Regions from separate parts of the Homo sapiens genome. Here region 2 is linked to region 1. Evidence: fine-mapped expression QTL. A gene starts in region 1. The other region holds a variant in brackets. All regions are shown on one strand. Distances are between the middles of the regions.

Region 1 (5,306 bases):
CCACTGATCTTTCAGGATGCGGAGCTCAGGTGGTAATGCTCGCTCTCCTGCTGCTCACCTCCTGCTGTGTGGCCCAGTTCCTAACAGGCCATAGACCAGTACTAGTCTGAAGCCTGGGGGTTGGAGACCCCTGGGATTAGGGATCTGTGATAGTAATTTGCCTTACACAGTTGCGGAAGGACCAGAAGGGGAGTTGGGGATCAGAGGAGTCCTTAGTCAGTCATCTGAGAAACCAAGTATGTCCAGCTGCTAAAATGGAACCACAAGGGAAAGCTCCTGGGGAGGTCTATGGGTGGTACTAATGCCCTGGGTCTGCAGCCAAGTCCGCGATGGCCTGGGGCCACTGTTGGTCAGCAGGCTCAGCAGCTGGGAAGAAAAGCTGGATGTGGAGTGAAGGAGAGTGACAGCAGGCTGGAAGCCAGTGGTGCCCTCTTCATCCATCACCACAGCTGACTATGACAACCTTCAGAGACTTAACTTTGAAACATGTAAATACTTTACATAATTGTAAAGCAAAATTAACATTTAAAAATATCAAAAAACAAAAGCAAAACAAAATAAATAAACCATGCATGTTGAGTTGGTGGCATAACCACATAAAGAACTATTCCAAGTGACTAAAACAGTAACGTGACACTATGCCCCTAGTGGGATGTACATGTGACAAAAGCTTTACAAAAAACATTTAAACTGTTTTCAGGAATAATATCTTTGGCTAGGCGTGGTGGCCAAGCACTTTGGGAGACCTAGGTGGGTAGATCACCTGAGGTCAGGAGTTCGAGGCCAGCCTGGCCAACATGGTGAAACCCCCGTCTCTACTAAAAATACAAAAATCAGCCGCGTGTGGTGGCACACACCTGTAGTCCCAGCTACTTGGGAGGTTTAGGCATGAGAATCGCTTGAACCTGGGAGGCAGAGGTTGCAGTGAGCTGAGATTACGCTACTGCACTCCAGCTTGGGCAACACAGTGAGACTCTGTCTTAAAAAAAAAACAAAAACAAAAAGGGGGGGGTGCGGCGCAGTGGCTCACACCTGTAATCCCAACACTTTGGGAGGCCAAGGTAGGTGGATCACCTGAGGTCAGGAGTTCAACACCAGCCTGACCAACATAGTGAAACCCCATCTCTACTAAAAATACAAAATTATCCAGGTGTGGGGGCGAGTGCCTGTAATCCTAGCTACATGGGAGGCTGAGGCAGGAGAACTGCTTGAACCCAGGAGGCAGAGGTTGCAGTGAGCCGAGATCATACCACTGTACTCCAGCCTGGGCGAAAGAGTGAGACTCTGTCTCAGAAAAAAAAAAATCATATCTTTGATTATTATGTTGGAATTGTTATTTTGAGACCATTTTGAGGGGTTGGCTCAGGGCTCATTAATTGTTAGCTGTTATCATTATGTTATTTTTCAAAGGCCATTCCAAATACCTCCTTCTTCAGGAAGCCTTCTTGAACTATATTCTAAGGACTAATGACTGAAAGATGCTCTTCCTCCTTTGATCCCCAAAGTAGTAGTAACTACACCTATCATGGCTTTGCTGGCTTCTTGCCTTGGGATAGAGATGCCTGAGACCCCATTATCCCTAAATTCAAAGAAGCTGTAAATGCCTTTAAGGCAAAAAGGACATGGACATCCCCCAAGGGTCTGAAGTGCAACCCATTCTGGTGTATTTAATGTGTATCTTTTTGTTTCTATGTGTCTTTGCAAGTCTGTGTTGTTTGATGTAAATGCATTTGTAATATTTTTATTGATATTGTTTCCTAGGTCTTATTTGGTTTGGTTATTTACTTTTTCTGCCTAGCACTAGGTGTTTAAATCCATATTGCCACGAATACAGCGGGTCCCTTGCTTTGAGTGCTGCACAGTTTATCCATCTGCTCTTACAAGAAAGGGCGCTTAGATTGTCTCCAACTCCCAGCAACCACAGCAACACAGCAACCAACATCCTCCTACATGTCCCTTTATGGGCCTGATAAATCTTTCTGAACACTGATAAATCCGACCATCTCTTCATATGCTTGCAGACCTGCTGAGGTTGTGGTCCCTTAAACGCCAGCTCACATCTTTGGGGTTTGACTTTCTGCGCCTGAGGCGGCGGGCCCAAGGCTCAGCCCTCCTCCCCGAGTCCCGAGAGGCGCGAGGAGGATGAGCCTGCCAGATGCCTTGTGCGCATCTATCTCCAGGGCCGGGGAGGCTGGGCGAACTCCCGGGGAGGAGACTGGGTCAGGGACACCTGCGGAACTCGGCGTGGCCCCGACCCGCCGGCCTCGGGCGCGGAGGGGTGGGCAGGTTAAGAGAGCAGGAGGAGGGACCTGCGTCCTGGTCCGGGACTGGGGTGGCCGGGGCAGCTGCGCTCCTAGCAGGCGGGGCGTGGAGTCTGGAGGAGCGACCGCCCCGTCCTCTCGGCTCCCCGGGCCCCGCCCCGGCGGACGCGCGCCTCGCGCCCGGGCACCAGCGCGCGCAGGGGCTGCGGAGCGGCAGGATGCAGGAGGAGCTGGCGTGGGAGACCGACGGCCGTGAGTCTGCCTGGAGGAGGGAGGGGGGCGGGCCGAGGCCGAGAGGACCCCCGCATCCGTTTGGGGAGTGCCAGGGGTGAGGTTGGCGCCCTCCGAACGGCCACCTCCGTGTGGGGCGTCTGTGTGGCTCCGAGCGGAATGGTTACCGGTCCGCGCACTGGGCCGAGGGGACCTTGCCAGTGCGTCTGGGACTCGGGGACCACACCCGCCAGGTGAGCGGGGAGCAGCGGCTGAGAGGTTAGCTACAAATAATAAAGGTAATAGCGATCCTTGACTGCGTGCTGTACTTTGTGTGCCAGGCCTTGACCCAGGAGAGGCACGTCATTTGATCTTCGCTGCGGCCATATGGGTAGGACATTATGTTATCTTCATTTCGCAGATGAGAAACTGAGGCACAGGGTGTTCAAATGAGTTGTTCAAGGTCACACAGCCATTGAGTGGTAGAAGTGCTGAAGGGCCCAGCTCACCCGGAATGCTGGGGCTGGATAGCGAGTGGAGACCGCATCAGATGGGGCACGCACTCAGAGGAGAGGAGCCTGACTGGCCACAGGTGGAATGAGGGCACCTCCGAACCTCCCTCAAGGAGTGCGCCCAGTGCCAGGGCCTCTAGGCCGGGCAGCAGCGTCTGTGTGGGCATCAGCTGGCCTGGGGCAGCTTTGGCTGCACCGTCTGGGAGAGGGGAGAGAAAGATTGTGTCGGTGTCTGCACTGTGAGTCCTTGATCCTGCAGCCCTGGCTGAATCCTGACAGCTGAATCCCGGGGCTTTCCCTCAAAAGCGCATAGTGCAGCTCACTGGATTCCTTTGAGACCTATAGTGTCCAAAATGCTGGCACACTGCATCTACTCAGCTGAGGGATGTGTTGGGGGTGGGAATGCTCAATCAAGATTAGGTACATGGTTCTGCCTGGGGCGGAGGATCACTTGAGTGGGCCTGCGAAGAATGTGTACCAATGGAGCATTGGGGTGTGTGGCAGAGAATTCTGGACAAAGACCCAGCATGGGCAAAGGCTCAGGTAGCTCAGTGGGTATTGGATGTGGCCAGAAAGAGGGTGCCGGATGGGAGGTGGATGGAAGAGATGAGACTGGACTTGATTTCATTCTAACTTAACCTTCTCTGGCCTGACCCTATGCAGTGTCTGCTGGCTTCCCATTGGAACTCCTGGCTGTTTGCCAATACAAACCAGGCCAATCCCCCTAAGCTGCACATAAGATAGAGGGTGCCAGACAGGAAGGGACCTATACAGATCTCTTTCTTCACCCTCCCCCAGTTTTACAATGGAAGAAACAGACCTACAAGGGGGATGTGACTAGCCCAGGATCCTGCTGCTGGAAAGTGGCAGGGAAGGTACTAGAACCCAGGCCTCTGTAAGCTCACATCTGAAGTGGCAGCTCTCTTTGGCTACCAGAATTTGACCCTTTGCCTTGGAGGAATAATAGTGATGATGATGGTGGTGGTGGTGGCGGTGTGGTCATTATGTGCCAGACACTGTGCCAGGGGGTTTTCATATCTCATTTCTAATCATGATATTAACCTTGTAGGGAAGCTCGCACTCCTGTTTTGCAGATGAGGAAACTGCCTAACACAGCTAGGAAGTGGTTAAGCCAGAGTTGAACCCAGGACTGTGTGATTGCCCCCCAGGGTAGCAACTCTGAGATCCACAGGTTGTATCCATGAGGCCCCAGAAAGCTCAAGATCCTCTTTCTCATCTGGAGAAGACTGTGTGGAATTTATCTAGAAAAACAAACTGCATGGCAGGCCTGTCTCTCACCTCAGTGCATCTTAGCCTTCCCTACCAAGACACTCGTCACCTGTCCCTGGATACACAAAGGGGCTGGGTTCAGACATTCATACTGGACCAAACATGCAGGCTATGGGGTCACTTGCCCTGCAGTGACTATGGAAAGGGCCAGCAAATATTTGTCTCTGTGCTAGTATGTGTGAGCACTTTGGGAGAGGGGACAGGCATCTATTCGTCTGGGGATTGTTGGTGTCACTCATACAAGCAGAGATTTTTTTGTTTCTGTTTTCTTTTTTTTTTTTTGAGATGGAGTCTCGCTCTGTCACTAGGCTGGAGTGCACTGGCATGATCTCGGCTCACTGCAACCTCCAGCTCCCAGGTTGAAGCAATTCTCCTGCCTCAGCCTTCCGAGTAGCTGGGACTACAGGTGTGTGCCACCATGCCCAATTAATTTTTGTATCTTTAGTAGAGACGGGGTTTCACCATGTTGGCGAGGATGGTCTTGATCTCCTGACCTCGTGATCCATCCACCTCGGCCTCCCAAAGAGCTGGGATTACAGGTGTGAGCCACTGCACCCAGCCTGTTTTTGTTTTCTTTTTAGAGACAGGGTCTCACTCTGTTGCCCAGGCTGGAGTGCAGAGGTGCAATTATAGCTCATTGGCAGCCTCAAACTCCTGGGCTCAAGCAAGCCTCTTGCCTTAGCTTCTTGAGTAGCCGGGACTACAGGCATGTGCCACCACACCTGGCTAATTTTTAAAAAAACTTTTTTGTAGAGATGGAGGTTTTGCTTTTTAGCCCAGGCTGGTCTTGAACTCCTGGCTTCAAGCCATCCTCCTGCCTTGGCCTCCCAAAGTGCTGGGATTGCACGCATGAGCCACCATGCCTGGCTCAAAAGCAGAGTTTTGTGGGTTCCTCCTGTGCCCACCTTTGGGCCTGCTGTGAGCTGTGGGTGGATCAGGAAGGGTCAAGTGTGGCCAGGGCCTCCAAAATACTTGAAGTCTAGCCATGGAGACTAGACATCCTCACAATCAAGAGCCGTCAGGATGATGGCAG
Region 2 (5,330 bases), 34 kb before region 1:
GGGGAGAGGATGGTGGCCATGTGGAGGGGTCTGGTGAACTACTAGAATTGAGCTGAGGCAAAAAATTGACAGTCAACGGGCATCCAGACAGTGGATAATTAAAGCCACAAGCACTGCTGAGTTATATCTTGTATGTTACTTAAGATTAGATTTGACTGTGACTGACAAGAGGCCATGGTGTCAGAAGAGTTCATCAGAGGCTAAACCTCAGCTCCGGGGGAGTTAGGCCAAGACAGCAGTGACACAAATTCATTTATCTTGCATGAATTAAGTCTGGTGGTAGAGGCCATCTCTATCATGGCACTCCATGGTCATCTGGGACCCAGCCTCCTTCCCTCTTACTGCTCTGCCATCTTACCCCTTGACTTTGATTTCTGGACCCATGAGGTGATACAGCTGCAGCCCCCGCATAAGTGTTCTCACCCTTGGGAAGCAAGAAGGGGTATAGGATGCACACTTTCCCTTTAGAGACACTTTCTGGAAGTTGTACTGCTGCCTCATTGCGAGGGTGGTCTTGCAGCTAGCTGCCTGGTGTTTTTTTTCCTGTTGACTGTGTGCCAGCTGAAAATCAAAAGTCTTATTACTAAAAAAGAAGGGAGGGAATGGAGCTAGAGCAGTGTTTTTCAAATGGGGATGATGTTGCCTTCAGAGGACATTTGTCAATGTCTGGAGATATTTTTGTCACAAATGGGGACATTGCTACTGGCATTTAGTGGGTGGAGGCCAGAGATGCTGTTGAACACCCTACAATGCACAAGACAGCCTCCCCGACAACATCTTGGGGGCTCCTCATCCAAAATATCAGTAGTGCTGAGGTTGAGAAACCCTGACCTAGGTGGACAACGTATAGTCTCTTTGCCACAACCAGGACGGGGTGTAGAGTGAGTGGACTAGTCACCGTAGATGTGCAAAGACACCTGTCCCTGGCAGACCATAATGTCAGGAGAGTTCAGCAGCAGCCCAGACCTAGGCTCTGGGGTTTTATCAGATTTGTCCCAGCTTAGTGGGGCTCTTGTCCTCAAAGAGGCTTTGTTTTGTTTGTGTCTTTTTGTTTTATTCATTTCTGTTTTAAAAACTATTTTTATTTTTTGTAGGAATAGGGTCTCACTATTTTGCTCAGGCTGGGCCCTTGTTTTATTCATTTCTTGATGTTGAATTCTGAAGCAGAGACCCAGGTTGGAGCCTCAAGGAAGAGGCTTAAGATAGAGGCGGGCTGAGCTCCGTGGCTCATGCCTGTAATCCCAGCACTTCAGGAGGCCGAGGCAGGAGGAGCACCTGAGGCCAGGAGTTTGAGACCAGCCTGGGCAATGTAGCAAGACCCTGTCACTACAAAATATTACAAAATAATTAGCCAGGTGCAGTGGCATGCACCTGTAGTTCTAGCTTCTCAGGACACTGAAGTGAGAGGATCCCTTGAGCCCATAAGTCCCAGGTTACAGTGGGCTATGATCATGCCAACGCATTCCAGCCTGGGCAACAAAGCGAGACTCTGTCTCAAAACAAACAAACATATATATATGCATTTCTTTGCCCACTAGCCACACCCCTGAGCTGCAGGTAGGGGAAAGAGTCCAATAGTCTTGGTAGCCAGGGCCAAGTTCTGATTCAGTCCCTCAGAGTGTGACCCAATCAGGACTTCTCCTCAGCCTCCTGGCCACAAGCCGGGGCTGGGTGGCCAAGGTGAGGCCCTTGTGGCCTTGAATCCGCAGAGATGCCAAGGCAGCCTTGCCAGCTTTGCCCAAATTGCTGGGCTGGCCTTTCTGTGCTTCCTCCCTCCCAACCAGCCTTCCAGCCTAGTCAGCTTTTCTGGGCCCCTCCCACCTCCATTTCCTTCCAGCCTGTGGCCTTGGGTCTGAAGGGAAGCAGCCCTGCCCCAGCTGTGGCCAGCGCCAGGCCATGCTGAGGCTGAGGCCTGTGGGTCCCCAGAGTGCCCAGGGTGTGGTGTGGGTGAGAGTGTGCTGGTCAGTGGGATGAGGAGAGTGCAAACAGCTCTGTCTCTGGGGAAGGCCAGGGGAGAAGAATAGATCCCAAGTCATTCTGAACATTTGGGGTGCCTGCTATGGGTGAGCAAAAGTCTCCTCAGACTAAACAGCCCTCTTCTTTTCTCTGTGAAAAGGTTCCCCTTGAGAGGAATTTGTCTCAAAATCACCCCTCAGGCTTGGGCCAAGGTCAGTCTCTACAGTGGATCTGGGAGGCAGGGTTCCATGAACTCAGGAAGTATCTTCCAATTTGTTTCTGGAGGGCCAGAGGGACCCCGGAGTTTTTCAGCATTTTGAAATATACAAGATATTCAACAAGACTAGGTGGCAGATGGGACCAGATATGTGGCACAGACCTTTCAGCTCTGTGAGCTTTGACAAGTCGCCTAAC[T/C]TCTGCTCTTCAGTTACCTCATCAGTTAAACGAGGAGAATTGTGCCCACCTGAGAGCTTGGAGATTAAATAGGATCACGCATGCGTGGCACCTGGACGATGCCCACCCAGTACCCACGGGAGGCCCTCAGGAAGCAGTGGCTGTTACTATCATTGTATCATCACTCTGTCTCTCAGAAGAGCCTTTTCCTTTCTTTCTTTCTTTCTTTTTTTTTTTTTTGAGATGGAGTTTTGCTCTTGTTGCCCAGGCTGGAGCACAACGTTGCGATCTTGGCTCACTGCAACCTCGGCCTCCCAGGTTCAAGCGATTCTCCTACCTCAGCCTCCTGAGCAAGGAGAGCCTTTTTACTCTTTTTCAGAAAGTCCTCCCTACAGCCACCTCTTTCTGTAGCTCTGACCAAAGAAAGTCTAAGGTGAAGGGACCCCAGTAACCTACACTTTACAGGTGGAGAGGCAAGAGAAGGGACTTGCCCAAGGCCACCTGGGGTGCCTGTGGCAGGGCATCAACAAGCTCGGGTCACTGCAGCATTCTTCTCCCCACCCTCTTCCCATTCAGGAAAGAAGGCCAGTCCTGTCATTTGTGCTGTTGTCTCAGACACCAAAAGGCTGTTTTCCTTCTGTCCAGCTCAGCATCGATGCCTGGAATCAGGAAGCAGGGTGATGGAAAGTGTCCTGTCTGACGTCTTCCTGCGGAGGGGGGACGGCATCCTCACAGGCTGGGCTTCCTGAAATACAGCTGTGGCAGCAGCTTCAGGATTTGGCAGAACATTTAACATTATTATTATCATTATTTTTGAGACAGAGTCTCACTCTGTTGCCCAGGCTGGAGTGCAGTGGCGCAGTCTCGGCTCACTGCAACCTCCGCCTCCCGGGTTCAAGCGAGTCTCCTGCCTCAGGCTCCCAAGTAGCTGGGATTACAGGTGCGTGTCACCACGCCCGGCTAATTTTTGTGTTTTTAGTAGAGACTGGGTTTCGCCATGTTGACCAGGCTGGTCTTGAACCAGCGATCTACACACCTTGGCCTCCCAAAGTGCAGAGATTACAGGTGTGAGTAACTTCGCCCAACCAACAATTGGATACTTTTCAGTACTATTTGAATTATTATTATTTGCCATACACATAAGTTAAATCTATTAATAAAATAGTCAGGCCAGGCGCGGTGGCTCACGTCTGTAATCCACCTGACCTCAGGTGATCCACCCACCCTCGGCCTCCCAAAGTGCTGGGATTATAGGCGTGAGCCACTGTGCCTGGCCTAACATTATTTTTTAAAAGACCGAGTATTGGGAATAAGGTGAGGAGGGAGGAGAGATGGGGTAGATGAAAGGAAACAAACTTTTCCAGCAGAGAATAACTAGAGTTACTCTAGAAATGCTAAATAAAAAAATAGAGCATGAGTGTGTTATTTACAGTCAGGGAGAGGATTCACAGCAGTGAAAAATTATTCACTTTTTTTTTTTTTTTTTTTTTTTTTTTAGTTTCCTACACTACATGGATATAAAAATCATTCACTATTAACATAGTTACTTCTGGGTAGTGGTTCTGGAGGTAGGATAATTTAATTTTTAATTGGATACTTTTCTTTCTTCTTTTCTTTTTTCTTTGAGAAAAGGTATCTGTTGCCCAGGCTGGAGTGCAGTGCACCATCACTGCTCACTGCAGCCTCCACTTCCCAGGCTCAATCGATCCTCCCACCTTAGCCTCCTGAGTAGCTGGGACAATAGGCAAATGCCACCACATTCATCTAATTTATTGTATTTTTTGTAGAGATGGAGTCTCTATAAAAGTTGCCCAGGCTGGTCTTAAACTCTTGAGCTCAAGCGATCTACCCACCTTGGCCTCCCAAAGTGCAGAGATTACAGGTGTGAGTGACTTCGCCCAACCAACAATTGGATACTTTTCAGTACTATCTGAATTATTATTATTTGCCATACACATAAGTTACATCTATTAATAAAATAGTCAGGCCAGGCGCGGTGGCTCATGCCTGTAATCCAGCTACTTGGGAGGCTGAGGCAGGAGAATCACTTGAACCCGGGAGGCAGAGGTTATAGTGAGCCAAGATCGCGCCATTGCACTCCAGCCTAGGCAACAAGAGCGAAACTCCGTCTCAAATAAACAAATAAATAGGCCGGGCGCGGTGGCTCACGCCTGTAATCCCAGCACTTTGGGAGGCCGAGGCAGGCAGATCATGAGGTCAGAAGATCAAGACCATCCTGGCTAACATGGTGAAACCCCATCTCTACTAAAAATACAAAAAATTAGCCGGGCGTGGTGATGGGTACCTGTAGTCCCAGCTACTTGGGAGGCTGAGGCAGGAGAATGGCGTGAACCTGGGAGGCGGAGCTTGCAGTGAGCCGAGATCGTGCCACTGCACTCCAGCCTGGGCAACAGAGCGAGACTCCGTCTCAAAAAATAAATAAATAAACAAATAAATAAATAAAAATAGTGCTGAGCTCGGAGGCAGGTGGGAACTACTTTTGTCTCTAGACTCATTGAATGTGACCCAGGTAGTCCTTGGTCAGTCTAATAGGGAATTCTGTGTCAGTCAAATTTCAGCTAGACCCTCCTCCTGTCCCCTCAAGACCCAGTTAAGATTGGCTCCAGAAAATTTTTAAAAAGTGGCCCTAGACTATTCAATAAATAGAGTTAGAAATTTGGTTACCCGTTCGAAAAAGAAAAAAGAAATCTTTACCTCACACTATCCACAAAAAATCAACTCTAGATGGATCAATAACTCAAAAAGTTAAAGTTAAAACCTTTAGGCCAGGCACAGTGGCCTATACCTGTAATCCCAGAACTTTGGGAGGCCAAAGTGGGAGGATCATTTGAAGCCAGGAATTCAAGACCAGCCTGGGTAACACAGCAAAACGTCATCTCTACAAGAAATACAAAAATTAGCTGGGCGTGATGGCACGTGCTTGTGGTTCCAGCTACTCGGGAGGCTGAGGGAGGATCACT

Alleles and levels. Positions count from the first base shown, and alleles are read on the strand shown. Sizes are in standard deviations (SD) of each study's normalised expression.
With allele T in place of C in region 2, the expression in regulatory T cells of the gene that starts at base 2,451 in region 1 is higher (large effect, 1.2 SD a copy in Bossini-Castillo 2019).

What was found. PIP is the estimated chance that this variant, and not a neighbour inherited with it, causes the effect. A credible set is the group of variants that fine-mapping cannot tell apart.
Region 2: its variant is the best candidate, but not a certain one, in a credible set for the expression of ANKDD1A in regulatory T cells (Bossini-Castillo 2019, PIP 0.67).

What each region holds. Positions count from the first base shown.
Region 1 is chr15:64,909,452-64,914,757 of GRCh38, forward strand. ANKDD1A (ankyrin repeat and death domain containing 1A) reads left to right here and starts at 2,451. Exons shown (of 15, transcript NM_182703.6): 1 at 2,451-2,513. The coding sequence starts at 2,480. RefSeq lists silencers at 1,679-1,973, 2,047-2,096, 2,297-2,476 and an enhancer at 2,663-3,206.
Region 2 is chr15:64,875,868-64,881,197 of GRCh38, forward strand. No RefSeq gene overlaps it. Among named protein-coding and RNA genes, the nearest start is that of ANKDD1A, 33 kb to the right of the region's middle. The variant T/C (reference allele first, on the strand shown) is at 2,371.